Regions from separate parts of the Homo sapiens genome. Here all the other regions are reported to be linked to region 2. Evidence: microRNA targets listed by miRTarBase, many of them from high-throughput screens and not tested one by one. Region 2 holds a microRNA gene; each other region holds the end of a gene's coding sequence.

Evidence for each region. The annotated mature microRNA hsa-miR-376a-3p reads AUCAUAGAGGAAAAUCCACGU and lies in region 2 at 2,264-2,284, opposite strand. An mRNA with a match to its seed (bases 2 to 7 or 8) in the 3' UTR can be bound and repressed. Matches are read on the target gene's strand: a 7mer-m8 pairs with bases 2 to 8, a 7mer-A1 pairs with bases 2 to 7 and ends in A, and an 8mer does both.
Region 1: the mRNA of ZNF594 is a reported target of hsa-miR-376a-3p. Seed matches in the 3' UTR shown: 7mer-A1 at 2,256-2,262 and 7mer-A1 at 1,845-1,851.
Region 3: miRTarBase lists CZIB as a target of hsa-miR-376a-3p. The part of its 3' UTR that is shown has no 7-base or 8-base seed match.
Region 4: miRTarBase lists LEPROT as a target of hsa-miR-376a-3p. Seed matches in the 3' UTR shown: 7mer-A1 at 644-650.

The regions. Positions count from the first base shown.
Region 1 is chr17:5,179,298-5,182,420 of GRCh38, forward strand. ZNF594 (zinc finger protein 594) reads right to left here. Exons shown (of 2, transcript NM_032530.2): 2 at 238-3,123. The coding sequence ends at 2,536. Among named protein-coding and RNA genes, the nearest start is that of ZNF594, 11 kb to the right of the region's middle.
Region 2 is chr14:101,039,268-101,042,401 of GRCh38, reverse strand. It overlaps MIR376A2 (microRNA 376a-2), which reads right to left and starts at 2,333; the gene lies at 2,254-2,333. MIR376C (microRNA 376c) reads right to left here and starts at 2,712; the gene lies at 2,647-2,712. MIR654 (microRNA 654) reads right to left here and starts at 2,183; the gene lies at 2,103-2,183. MIR376B (microRNA 376b) reads right to left here and starts at 1,966; the gene lies at 1,867-1,966. It also overlaps MIR376A1 and MIR300.
Region 3 is chr1:53,212,032-53,215,165 of GRCh38, forward strand. It overlaps CZIB (CXXC motif containing zinc binding protein), which reads right to left. Exons shown (of 8, transcript NM_017887.3): 8 at 2,068-2,705. The coding sequence ends at 2,628. It overlaps CPT2 (carnitine palmitoyltransferase 2), which reads left to right. Exons shown (of 5, transcript NM_000098.3): 5 at 1,233-2,166. The coding sequence ends at 1,564. Among named protein-coding and RNA genes, the nearest start is that of CZIB-DT, 6.8 kb to the right of the region's middle.
Region 4 is chr1:65,431,354-65,434,353 of GRCh38, forward strand. It overlaps LEPROT (leptin receptor overlapping transcript), which reads left to right. Exons shown (of 4, transcript NM_017526.5): 4 at 450-3,000. The coding sequence ends at 566. The region is part of intron 2 of LEPR (leptin receptor); the gene reads left to right. Among named protein-coding and RNA genes, the nearest start is that of LEPROT, 12 kb to the left of the region's middle.

The DNA of each region.
Region 1 (3,123 bases), not on the chromosome of region 2:
TGCTGGCTACAGGTGGATGATGCCCACCTGGCTGCCAATGACTTCTGCACCAAGCGAGGCTGGGTCTCTGGAGCTGCACCAGGGGCTGGACAAGCTGACCCTGGCCGGAGCCAACCTGGAGATGCAGCCTGAGAACCTCAAGGAGGACCTGGTCTACCTGAAGAAGATTCAACAATGACTATCTTTCTTCAGCCCCATCTAATTACGGCCCCTGGCACATACTAAACAGTCACTAAGTAATTCTTAAATAACTTTTATTTCAACATTCAGTTAAAAACATTCCATACTGTAACAAAAATTTCAATCTTTCAAAAGTCCAATACCCTTAGTTTGATTCAAGCTCCATCAAAGATGAATTGGTTAGTTTTTAATCTGGAGTTTACAAGTCATAGTTAATATTTCAAAAAGCCTAACATAGACGATATGTTTGCCCACAAAAGGAATAAAAAGACTAATGAAAATGGTAAATTATTTGCTTTGGGCTGGAATTTTAGTACCTAGGTCTGCCTACATGGTGCCAGTCAGAAGCATGATTTGTGTTGTACATGCCTTTATGTAGCAAAATATAATTCTTTAATAAATGCAGTTTGGTAAACATAATCTTTTAAGACACAGGACATAGGGGAGTAAAAAGAAGGCCTTGGTGATTAAAAAGTTGGAAACCACTGAATTAAATTACCTTCAAATCCCTGTAAGTATCCTGTTTATCCTTATAAACATTAGCTCTCACTGTACAGCATTGTAAAGACAAGCAGAAGAGTTAGACTTTTTTTTTTTTTTGAGATGGAGTTTCGCACTTGTTGCCCAGGCTGGAGTGCAGTGGCATGATCTTGGCTCACCGCAACCTCCACCTCCCAGGTTCAAGTGATTCTCCTGCCCTAGCCTCGCAAGTACCTGGGACTACAGGCGTGCCCCACCATGCCTGGCTAATTTTTGTTATTTTTAGTAGAGACGGGGTTTTAGTATGTTGGCTGGGCATAGTAACTCCTCATGATCAACTCGTGACCTCGTGATCTGCCCACCTTGGCTTCCCAAAGTGCTGGATTACAGGTACGAGCCACCGCACCTGGCCTACACTCATTACTTTCACAGGGTTTTTTCCCACATTTAAACTTGTCACTCGACTAGGAAGTCAAGATTGAAATGGCTCTTTCCATGAATAATTTAGTTTTGGGGTTGTTGCCAAAGTGATTTATAATGATTTTAATAATGATAGACATCCCTTAAAACATTCTCAAGTAATTAGACCCCTGGGGCTGGTGCAGTGGCTCATGCCGGTAATCCCAACCCTTTGGGAGGCTGAGGAGGGAGGAGTGCTTGAGCCCAAGAGTTCAAGTCCAGCCTGGGCAACATAGTGAGACCTCATCTCTTTGTATGTTAAAAAATAAATAATTTAAAAAATTGTATCGTTGGGACCATATTCTAGTGTCAGTTCTGAGACAGAAAAAAAAAAGGTGATTATGTCCAAGAGCTTTTGGCTTTTCCACTTGATTATACTTACGTTTGAAAAATCCAGTAGGTATTTTCTCTGCTTTCCCACCTTCCCATGGTTTTTTTCTAATAAAACTCATTTGTAGTGCAATAAGATGTGGTCTCCATCAGACTTTTCCTAGTTTTACTGCATTCATTAGGTTTCTGCTACCTATTAGAATAGGTCCTGTTTGTAGACTCTTACAGTCTTCAAATTCCTTTCCAATGTGAAGTTTCTGGTGCTTAAGAAAAGCTGTCCACCCACTGAAGGCCTTACCACAGTTGCTACATTCAAAGGGTTTCTCTCTGGTATGAATTCTTTGATGACTGACAAGGTGTGAGTTCTGACTGAAGGCCTTCCAACATTCAGGGCATTCATAGGGTTTCTCTCCAGTATGAACACGATGGTGTCTAATAAGATCTGAGCTGCCCCTAAAAGATTTCCCACATTTGTTGCATACATAAGGTTTTTCTCCACTGTGAATTCTATGATGTCTCAGAAGGTCTGAGCTCTGATTGAAAGTTTTCCCACATTCTTTACATTCATATGGTTTCTCTCCTGTATGAGTTACCTGATGTCCGATGAGGTCTGAGCTGCCCTGGAAAGCCCTACCACACTGATTACACCAATAAGCTTTCTCTTCTTGGTGAATTTTCTGCTCTCCCCTAAGCTCCTCATCCTTGCTGAAGGTTTTCTCACGTTCTTCAAGTTTCTCTCCAGCATGCAGTCTCTGATGTTTGAGGAAAGCTGTGTGCCACATGAAGAGTTTCCCACATTCCTTACATTCATAGGGTTTCTCACCACTATGAATTCTCCGACGTTGAATAAGGAGTGAACGCCGCCTGAAGGCTTTTTCACATTCAGTGCACTGATAGGGCTTCTCTCCAGTGTGGATTTTCTGGTGTGTGACAAGGTGGGACCTCTGGCTAAAGACTTTCCCACATTCACTACATTCATGAGGTTTCTCTCCAGTATGAACACGATGGTGTTTAATAAGATCTGAGCTGCTCCTAAAAGATTCCCCACATTTATTGCATACGTAAGGTTTTTCTCCACTGTGAATTCTATGATGTCTCAGAAGGTCTGAGCTCTGATTGAGTTTTCCCACATTCTTTACATTCATATGGTTTCTCTCTTGTATGAGTTACCTGATGTCTGATGAGATCTGAGCTGCCCTGGAAGGTCCTACTACACTGATTACACCAATAAACTTTCTTTTCCTGGTGAGTTCTCTGCTCTTTTCTAAGCTCCTCATCCTTGCTGAAGGTTTTCTCACATTCTTCAAGTTTCTCTCCAGCATGCAGTCTCTGATGTTTGAGGAAAGCCGTGTGCCACATGAAGAGTTTCCCACATTCCTTACATTCATAGGGTTTCTCACCACTATGAAGTCTCCGATGTTGAATAAGGAGGGAACGCCGCCTGAAGGCATTCCCACATTCACTGCACTGATAGGGTTTCTCTCCAGTATGGATTTTCTGGTGTGTAGCAAGGTGTGACCTCTGGCTGAAGGCTTTCCCACATTCACTACATTCATAGGGTTTCTCTCCAGTATGAATACGATGGTGTTTAATAAGATCTGAGCTACCCCTAAAAGATTTCCCACATTTGTTGCATACATAAGGTTTTTCTCCACTGTGAATTCTATGATGTCT
Region 2 (3,134 bases):
GCTAACACCAGGAATCCAAGGGTCTTTCCATTGGCAAGAATCCCTAAAGGACACCAATGGACTAAGAGAGCAGTGGGGCTTAGAGGTCCCAGCAGCAAGTCCTGTAGCCACACTGGGTGCTCTGGGGCCTCCTTCCTGTGGACTGGCCTTCCCTCAAGTGGACAGTGAGGTCCAAAAGTCACTCCAAGGATGGGCTAGGTATGGAGAGTGGGTAGACCAGATGACCCACATCTACATTAGACATTGACTTTGCTGACGGTCATTCTTTCATGTATCTGGGAGATGCACTGACCACGAGACCTCTTCTCAGAGGCTGGCATCATGCTGGGCAGACCTGCCGGAGTAGCAGCCCATGGATGCTTTGTGATAAGTAGGGCCCATCAAGGGAGGCCCTTTGTTCTTTTCTTTTTTTTTTAACCTATTGTGTTGAGACAGGGGTCTCTGTCAGCCAGGCTGAAGTGCAGTGGCACAATCTTGGCTCACTACAACCTCCCAACTCCCGGGCTCAAGTGATCCTCCAGCCTCAACCTCCTAAGTACTGGGACCACAGGCGCACACCATGACACCCAGCTAATTTTTGTATTTTTTGCAGAGATGGGGTTTCGCCAAGTTGCCCACGCTAGTTTCGAACTCCTGGGCTTAAGCCATCCACCGTCTCAGCCTCCCAAAGGGCTGGGGTTACAAGCGTGAGCCACCGTGCCCGGCCAAGGTAGGCCCTTTTTGCTAGGCAGAACAGGTGGTCTGAAGAGAAAACCCTATATCATCTCCAAAGCCAGCATCTCTTCCAGAAAGTTCTTGGAAGGAAGCATGAGATGAGGAGGGTCAGAGAACCAGGTCACAAACAGCAAGACAGAGGCACATGCCCTGTGGTCAACCATCCACACCCCAGGGCTATCCTGGCCATCTAACAGGTTGCTGGAGTCAGCCTTGTTCCCAAGAAGGCTTCCCAGGCAGGATTTGCTCCCCAGAGAGAGTCTGCCCTTGTATAATCATTGCAAGTAAAGCAAATGCGTGAAGGATTACCTCTCTTCAAGTAGCAAATGATGGCAGTGACAGGAAGGCCATTTCCTCTGTGACTAAGTTGCCACCAGCTCCAGGAGCAAGCCTTAGAGACACAGATGGGATCTGCATGGTGAGAGCAGCACACCGAGGTGTGAAGTGCAGGCCCGTGGGTGAATCACACATCTATTCCTTCCATAGCCCCTGAAGCAGTGCCCCTTCCTGAAATTGACAGCCCACTCAGGTATTCTCTAAGGTACAACTAGTCACAGTAAAAGAGGTTCATTCCAGAAAATGCATTGCAATCATGGTAAACATACAGAGAACAAACTTCATTCAAGGTCAATGAGGCAATACTGAGAACACAGCCTTGTAACAACACATTATGTGTGCACCAAGGGCAGTGAGCAAACAGCAGAGAAGCTGACGGCGTATTTCATACAAAGTACAATTCTGTGTCTGTCCGTCCTGTACCCAGGAGGGGTACAGATAACATCTCCTCTTCCATGGCGACTTCACGTCCTCCGAGGTTTTCAAAGCAGCATTTGATACTGAAAACGTGGATTTTCCTCTATGATTAATCATAAATAATGTACTCATAGAAGGAGAATCTACCTTTTAAATACCAAAGAAGGATTCCATCCAGGAAAGCGTGCACCTGTGCTTGAGTCATCAGAAAAGAAAGTCACATGAGGCAGACGAGCTTCCAGGGAAGAACTGGCACCACGAGACCCACAATTTAATCTTCACCAAGTTGGCGTCTCGAGATGGTTCTCGGGCATACCCCGTTCATTCAGATACGACGTGCGGCCTACCATCTTTGCACCTACTCAGGCCCTACGGTCTCTTCCAGAAACATTTCCAAAGCAGCATTTGATACTGAAAACATGGATTTTCCTCTATGATTAACCAGGAATCACGTAAACATAGAAGGAATATCCACGTTTTAAATACCAAAGAAGGACTGGGCTCTGGAAAGGACAAATCTGAACACAGTTCATGGAAAATGGAAGCAAGACAGTAAAGCAACCGTTTTCAGTCCCGTAGCATAGCTGTGACAACACACCACAGCCTGTGCACCAAGCTGGCTCCTCAGCGAAAGGGGGCTTCTAAAGGTGATGGTCAGCAGACATATGGCACGAACTCAGCACATGTTCTGCGGCCCACCATCTTTCCACTTACCCTGGAGGGCTCAGCCCCACCTCACGTCCCTGATGGTGGCTTCAGTCCAGCCATGATCCCAAGGCAGCATTTGATACTGAAAACGTGGATTTTCCTCTATGATTAACCATCAAACACGTAACCATAGAAGGAAAATCTACCTTTTAAATACCAAAGAAGGTTTCATCCCGGAAAGCACGAACCTAAGTACAATCCATCAAACACAAAAGTAACATAGCACAGAGGAGAGCATTCGGCCTCATGGAGAAAATGACGACGGAGCCCAGCCGCTTGGCCGAGCGGGCAGCTTGCGAGAGGGGTCTCCTCAAGGCGGGTGGGTGGTCCGCAGACATATGGCACGAATTCAGCACATGTTCTGAGGTCCACCGACTTTCCACTTACCCTGGAGTGGGGGGGGGGACTTTATTGTCTCTTCCCTGATGGTGGTTTCAGTCCAGGAATGTTTCCAAGCAGCATTTGATACTGAAAACGTGGAATTTCCTCTATGTTTAACCATAAATAACATAAACATAGAAGGAATATCCACCTTTTAAATACCAAAGAAGGATTGAGTCCTGGAAAGCATGAACCTAAGCACAATCTATCAAAATTAAAGACAGCACAGGATAGGTGCAGTCGGCAGGGGCCTCCCGGGCTAGCGGCAGTGACATGGGCCCTGCGGAGGACGCATGTCCCAGGACAGACCTTGCTAACAAGAGCTTAGGTTCTGGGATTCACCTTCCATCACTCTCCGCATGGGGGAGGGAGCTAACCTTCCTCTCAGAAATGTTCAGAAATGTTTTAAAAGCAGCCTTAGATACTGAAAATGCGGATTTTCCTCTATGATTCACCATAAATCCTGTAAGCATAGAAGGAACATCCACCTTTTAGATGGGAAAAGTGGGAACAGCCCTGGAGAGCACAAACGCAAACATGATTCATGAAAGACAGAAGGTAACAGAAGCAGGTGAGCA
Region 3 (3,134 bases), not on the chromosome of region 2:
ATAGGCATGCACCACCATGCCCAGCTGATATTTTAATTTTTTTTTTTTTTTGAGATGGACTCTTGCTCTGTTGCCCAGGCTGGAGTGCAGTGGCACAATCTCAGCTCACTGCAACCTCTGCCTCCTGGGTTCAAGCGATTCTCCTGCCTCAGCCTCCTGAGTAGTTGGGACTACAGGCTTATGCCACCATGCCCAGCTAATTTTTATATTTTCAATAGAGACGGGGTTTCACTATGTTGGCCAGGTTGGTCTCAAACTCCTGACCTCATGATCTACCCGCCTCACCCTCCCAAAGTGCTGGGATTATAGGCGTAAGCCACCATGCCGGGCCTAATTTTTAAAATTTTTTGTAGAGATGAGGTCCCACTGTATTGCCCAAGGTGGTCTCAAACTCCTGGGCTCAAGCAATCCTCCTGCCTTGGCCTCCCAAAGCACTAGGATTATAGGCATGCACCACTGCACCCAACCTTTTTCTATTACTGATTGGTTATCAGACTCACTTTTGAAAATTTAGGATTTCTAAACTTACGGCCCCACTAGCTTCACCTCAGTTGTAATGTGTCTGCTCTCTGTAAACAGGTTATCTCAGAAGCTCTTCTCAATTGTCATCCGTCATTACCTTTTTTTGATAAAATTCAAGACCTGGAAAGGACCTGGAGGGTCATAGTTGTCCTTTCATGTTGCTATGAAGTGCTGGAAGTGAAAGGGACCTCCAAGACATTCTAATCTTCTCTTCCTCCATTTTATAGGGAGAAAACCAAGCCACTGGCCCCGTTACACAGCAAGTTAGTAGTAAGACTGAGATTCGAACCCTGGTCAAACAGACTTTCCATTTTGTTCCACTGACTCAATCTTCTCTTTTACACTTGAATCAGACTTTTAGTTTTATTGTAGTTTTTGAGTCCATAGCTGTCTTCCTGTACTGTCTTGACTCTTTGACTAAACTGATTTCACATCTTTAAAATTATGCTTTCCTTTTAGGCTCATTTTTAGCTCAGCTGTTGACAGCTATTTTTAAATGTAACATGACATAATATATTTCCTAAATAATTTAAAATAATCTAGCTTGAGCTGCTCTGAAGGTTAGTCAGTTGGTGGTGTGCATAGAGGTAGAGCCTTCCCCCACTCTCAAGGATGCTGTGAGGGGTATTCCTACCATGTGGTGAGTTGGGAGGTTTTCCTGAGGTCCTTTTCCATCCTGAGACTCTGGTTTTCCATTTTGTTTCTCACAGGCCAGGGCTTTGACCGACACTTGTTTGCTCTGCGGCATCTGGCAGCAGCCAAAGGGATCATCTTGCCTGAGCTCTACCTGGACCCTGCATACGGGCAGATAAACCACAATGTCCTGTCCACGAGCACACTGAGCAGCCCAGCAGTGAACCTTGGGGGCTTTGCCCCTGTGGTCTCTGATGGCTTTGGTGTTGGGTATGCTGTTCATGACAACTGGATAGGCTGCAATGTCTCTTCCTACCCAGGCCGCAATGCCCGGGAGTTTCTCCAATGTGTGGAGAAGGCCTTAGAAGACATGTTTGATGCCTTAGAAGGCAAATCCATCAAAAGTTAACTTCTGGGCAGATGAAAAGCTACCATCACTTCCTCATCATGAAAACTGGGAGGCCGGGCATGGTGGCTCATGCCTGTAATCCCAGCATTTTGAGAGGCTGAGGCGGGTGGATCACTTGAGGTCAGGAGTTTGAGACCAACCTGGCCAACATGGTGAAACCTTGTCTCTACTAAAAATACAAAAATTAGCTGGGTGTGGTGGCATGTGCCTATAATCCCAGCTACTTGGGAGGTTGAAGCAGAATTGCTTGAACCCAGGAGGTGGAGGTTGCAGTGAGCTGAGATCACACCACTGCACTCCGGCCTGGGCGACAGAGCGAGACTGTCTCAAAAAAACAAAAAAGAAAAAAAAACTGGGGCCTGTGTAGCCAGTGGGTGCTATTCTGTGAAACTAATCATAAGCTGCCTAGGCAGCCAGCTACAGGCTTGAGCTTTAAATTCATGGTTTTAAAGCTAAACGTAATTTCCACTTGGGACTAGATCACAACTGAAGATAACAAGAGATTTAAGTTTTAAGGGCATTTAATCAGGAGGAAAGGTTTGGAAAACTAACTCAGGTGTATTTATTGTTTAAGCAGAAATAAAGTTTAATTTTTGCTTGAAGATGGTTCTTAATTTCTTTTAACCTAATTCCTAATCCTCACAAAGATCTTTCCAACAGCAAGTTCAGTAAGTTCAGGTAACAGTACGTCACCATTGGCTTCTGGCTCATTGAGTGATGGTGGGATCGCGGTTTCATCTCTGTAAACTTGCCCTTGACTGGGGAGATACCATCTCCTTAAAAATACTCTTCATTTTCCTAAGGAGTGAACTGCTGCTGCACGAATTCTTATTTGTGGAGGGAGTAGCTGCCTCCTTACTTCACCTTCATGCACCAGTGCAGCGTGAACAGGGGCTTTATTGATGGGGCTTGGGAAGCTGTAATAAAGTCCAGCATGCAGATTGTGAAGGTTTCGTATAGCCACCAGGAGACAAGGGTCAAAGGAACGAGCCTCTGTGGGCTCTGCTGCTTAGAGTACTTTGTCCTTTCTCAGTTCTTAAGGGCAACTGGGAAGGAAGAGGGATCAGCACTTCACAAACTGGTGGGTGACCTCATAGATTCCCACAGACTCCTGGGCCTTTTCATCATAGTCAGTCCAGTCCTGGGAAACAAAATGGCATTGTTAGCCTCACAACGCAGAATGCAGCCATGTGGAGAGCAGAAAACTGGGACTTAAAAGGCCCAGCTCAGGCTCTGACTCAAATAATCATGAACATGTATGACCCTGAACAGAGCCAGATAGCTCAGGCCTGAATTCTAGCTCTTTCAGTTGTATGACTGTGGGCAAATCACTTAACTTCTCTGAGTCCCTTCTCCGAGTCCTGTCTTCTATTTAAAAAAAACAAAAACAAAAAAAGGACAATGGAGTTCATATTGAATGTTGAAAGAATCAAATGAGGTAACACATTTAAAAGCACTCAGCAGCCGGGCGTGGTGGCTCATGCCTGTAATCCCAGCACTTTGGGAGGCCAAGGCAGGTGGATCATTTCAGGTCAGGGGTCCGAGACCATCCTGGCCAACAAGGTGAAAC
Region 4 (3,000 bases), not on the chromosome of region 2:
TGGAAAGCAGTTTTCAGTTGTATGAAGACTATTATTTAAAGTCTTTTCTTGCCTAGAAAAGAAACACACAAATTTATAACTCTACAATTTTTATTTTCCATGAAAGAAGTTGATGTGTGCAGAACTTTCAGTACCCAATATTGTAATTGCACTATTTATAATCTTACCACTTGAGTTTTACTTAAGGCAATCATTGTCAATTAAAAACAAGTAGAGAAATATGTCTAATTGGGAACATGTTAAGGATGATACCAGACTTAATTAACAAGCATCACAGAAGTAATTAGACTCATTACTGAACAGTTCATTGTCTCCTGTTACATTATTAAGCCTTTTAGCAGCTTTGTGTAACATTTCATTGGATGTTTCTAATGCAGAAAATAATAGGGATTGCAAAGAGTACAATATGAAGGAAGTAAGGATTTAATCCTTCTTTTCTTGTCTTTCAGATCAAATGGGGAGCCTGCGGCCTTGTGTTGGCAGGCAATGCAGTCATTTTCCTTACAATTCAAGGGTTTTTCCTTATATTTGGAAGAGGAGATGATTTTAGCTGGGAGCAGTGGTAGCACTTTATTCTGATTACAGTGCATTGAATTTCTTAGAACTCATACTATCTGTATACATGTGCACATGCGGCATTTTACTATGAAATTTAATATGCTGGGTTTTTTAATACCTTTATATATCATGTTCACTTTAAGAAAGACTTCATAAGTAGGAGATGAGTTTTATTCTCAGCAAATAGACCTGTCAAATTTAGATTATGTTACTCAAATTATGTTACTTGTTTGGCTGTTCATGTAGTCACGGTGCTCTCAGAAAATATATTAACGCAGTCTTGTAGGCAGCTGCCACCTTATGCAGTGCATCGAAACCTTTTGCTTGGGGATGTGCTTGGAGAGGCAGATAACGCTGAAGCAGGCCTCTCATGACCCAGGAAGGCCGGGGTGGATCCCTCTTTGTGTTGTAGTCCATGCTATTAAAAGTGTGGCCCACAGACCAAGAGCCTCAACATTTCCTAGAGCCTTATTAGAAATGCAGAATCTGAAGCCCCACTCTGGACCCAGGACATTTTGATGAGATCCAAAGGAGTTGTATGCACATGAAAGTTTGAGAAGCATCATCATAGAGAAGTAAACATCACACCCAACTTCCTTATCTTTCCAGTGGCTAAACCACTTAACCTCTCTGGGTGTTACCTGCTCATTTGTTTAAAAAAAAAAAAAAAGTCTCACCTGCTTTCATGCTGAGGACAAGTTCAGATGTTCAAGCCTATAATATTTAGGCAGTTCCTCAAATTTATGAAAAGTGTTCTCAGAATTGGGAGACAGTCAAAGGGTACAAAGCCTCAGTTAGGAGGAATAAGTGTGATTTTTTTTTAAAGATCACTTGCACAGCATGCTAAATATAGGAATAATTGAATGTATATTTCAATATTGCTAAGAGAGTAAATTTCTAATGTTCTCATAAAAAAGTTAAATATTTGAGATCATATGTTAATTAGTGTAATCATTCCACCTTATATTCAAAAATCATAAAACCGTATTGTACCCTATAAAAATATACAATAATTTGTCAATATATAATCAAAATAAAAAACAAAACATACTCTCTCCCCCAAAAAAACATCTCAGTGGGGAACAGATGTATCTTTTCATCTGAAAGACAATGCTGGGGGAAGAGCTCCACTGAGATGCGGGCAGGGAGGCTGGGCTCGAGCCAGCCCCTGCGTTAGCAGGAGGGGGAGAACAGATAGGTAACTCTTTTACATTTCCTTTATGATCTGGCACTTCTCCCCAGCTCCTTCCCTCTGCCCCCCACCCCTACTCCTCAACAGTTCTGGTTTGCCCTGACTTCTCTACGGCTCTGGCTTCTTCCCGAAGAGATATAGGAGCCATGTAAGCACGCAGTGGGTGAACTGCTTAATTTCACTACGTGTTGATGTACTTGTCTTCCGTCCTGTAGGTCTTTTCTATATAACTTTATGCCACCCTTAAATGAATCATTGGGTATACCTGTCATGTTGGATCCTGTAATCACAGTTTTCCCTGCTCACCTTTTTGTCTAAGATCTATTGAGAAAGGGAAATATGGGAAGGAGAACCATTTGATCAGAATACAACCAATAGTCTTTAAGCATTGTTAAAGTATGAAACTGAAATACATTCAAAACACTTAATCCTTGAGGCTTGTGATCTGAGTAATTAGCAGGTATGATGCTGGGACTGGAAAATAGAAAGTAATAACTAAAGGGTTAATGTGCAACGTTATTTTTTGGCCTTGTTCATGATTTTATGTTTTCAGTGTCCTGTGTACATATAGAATTGTTAAAGTTGTCATTTCCAATATTTATATTAGAAAAATTATTTAGATACTTTATAATTTTAACCGGCATTTTTAATAATGACACTTGCATTTATTGTATTGTAATAAATTTCACTTTTAACTTTAAAAGTTTAACTTTAAAATTTTTTTGTGATGTTGCCTTGCCTGAAAAGATAACAAAAATGAGAGAATTTCTTGATGTTTTAAAATGGGCAGTTTTGAGCAATAATCTGTCCTAACAGAACAGTAGCAATAAGTTTTAGGATACCATCTTGAATGTCTAGTTGGTGTGCAATAGCTTTTCTTTCTAAGATGGCAATAATGATTCATTTCTACTACATTTTGCAAAAGTGTTTTTGTTGCTTATACACATTTTCAATAACCAAGGTAGCCTTCATATGTAGCCTTAAAGCATTACCTCTTGATTGTATCTTTAGATTGATATAAAGTACTTGCATATAGAGTATTTGAAGTGATAGATTATTAGATTTGCTCTATGTCTGAAAAGAGAGCTATTCTGCAGTGCCTAAATATCATTTAAACAGTAAATATTAATAGGAAATATTGCTATATCTGAATATATAATACAAAAGTTTGATCATGGTGACACAAATGTTGGACATTTTTTTCCTTATAAAAGGCTCTTTTTTTATATATTGTACAATATATTTGGAGA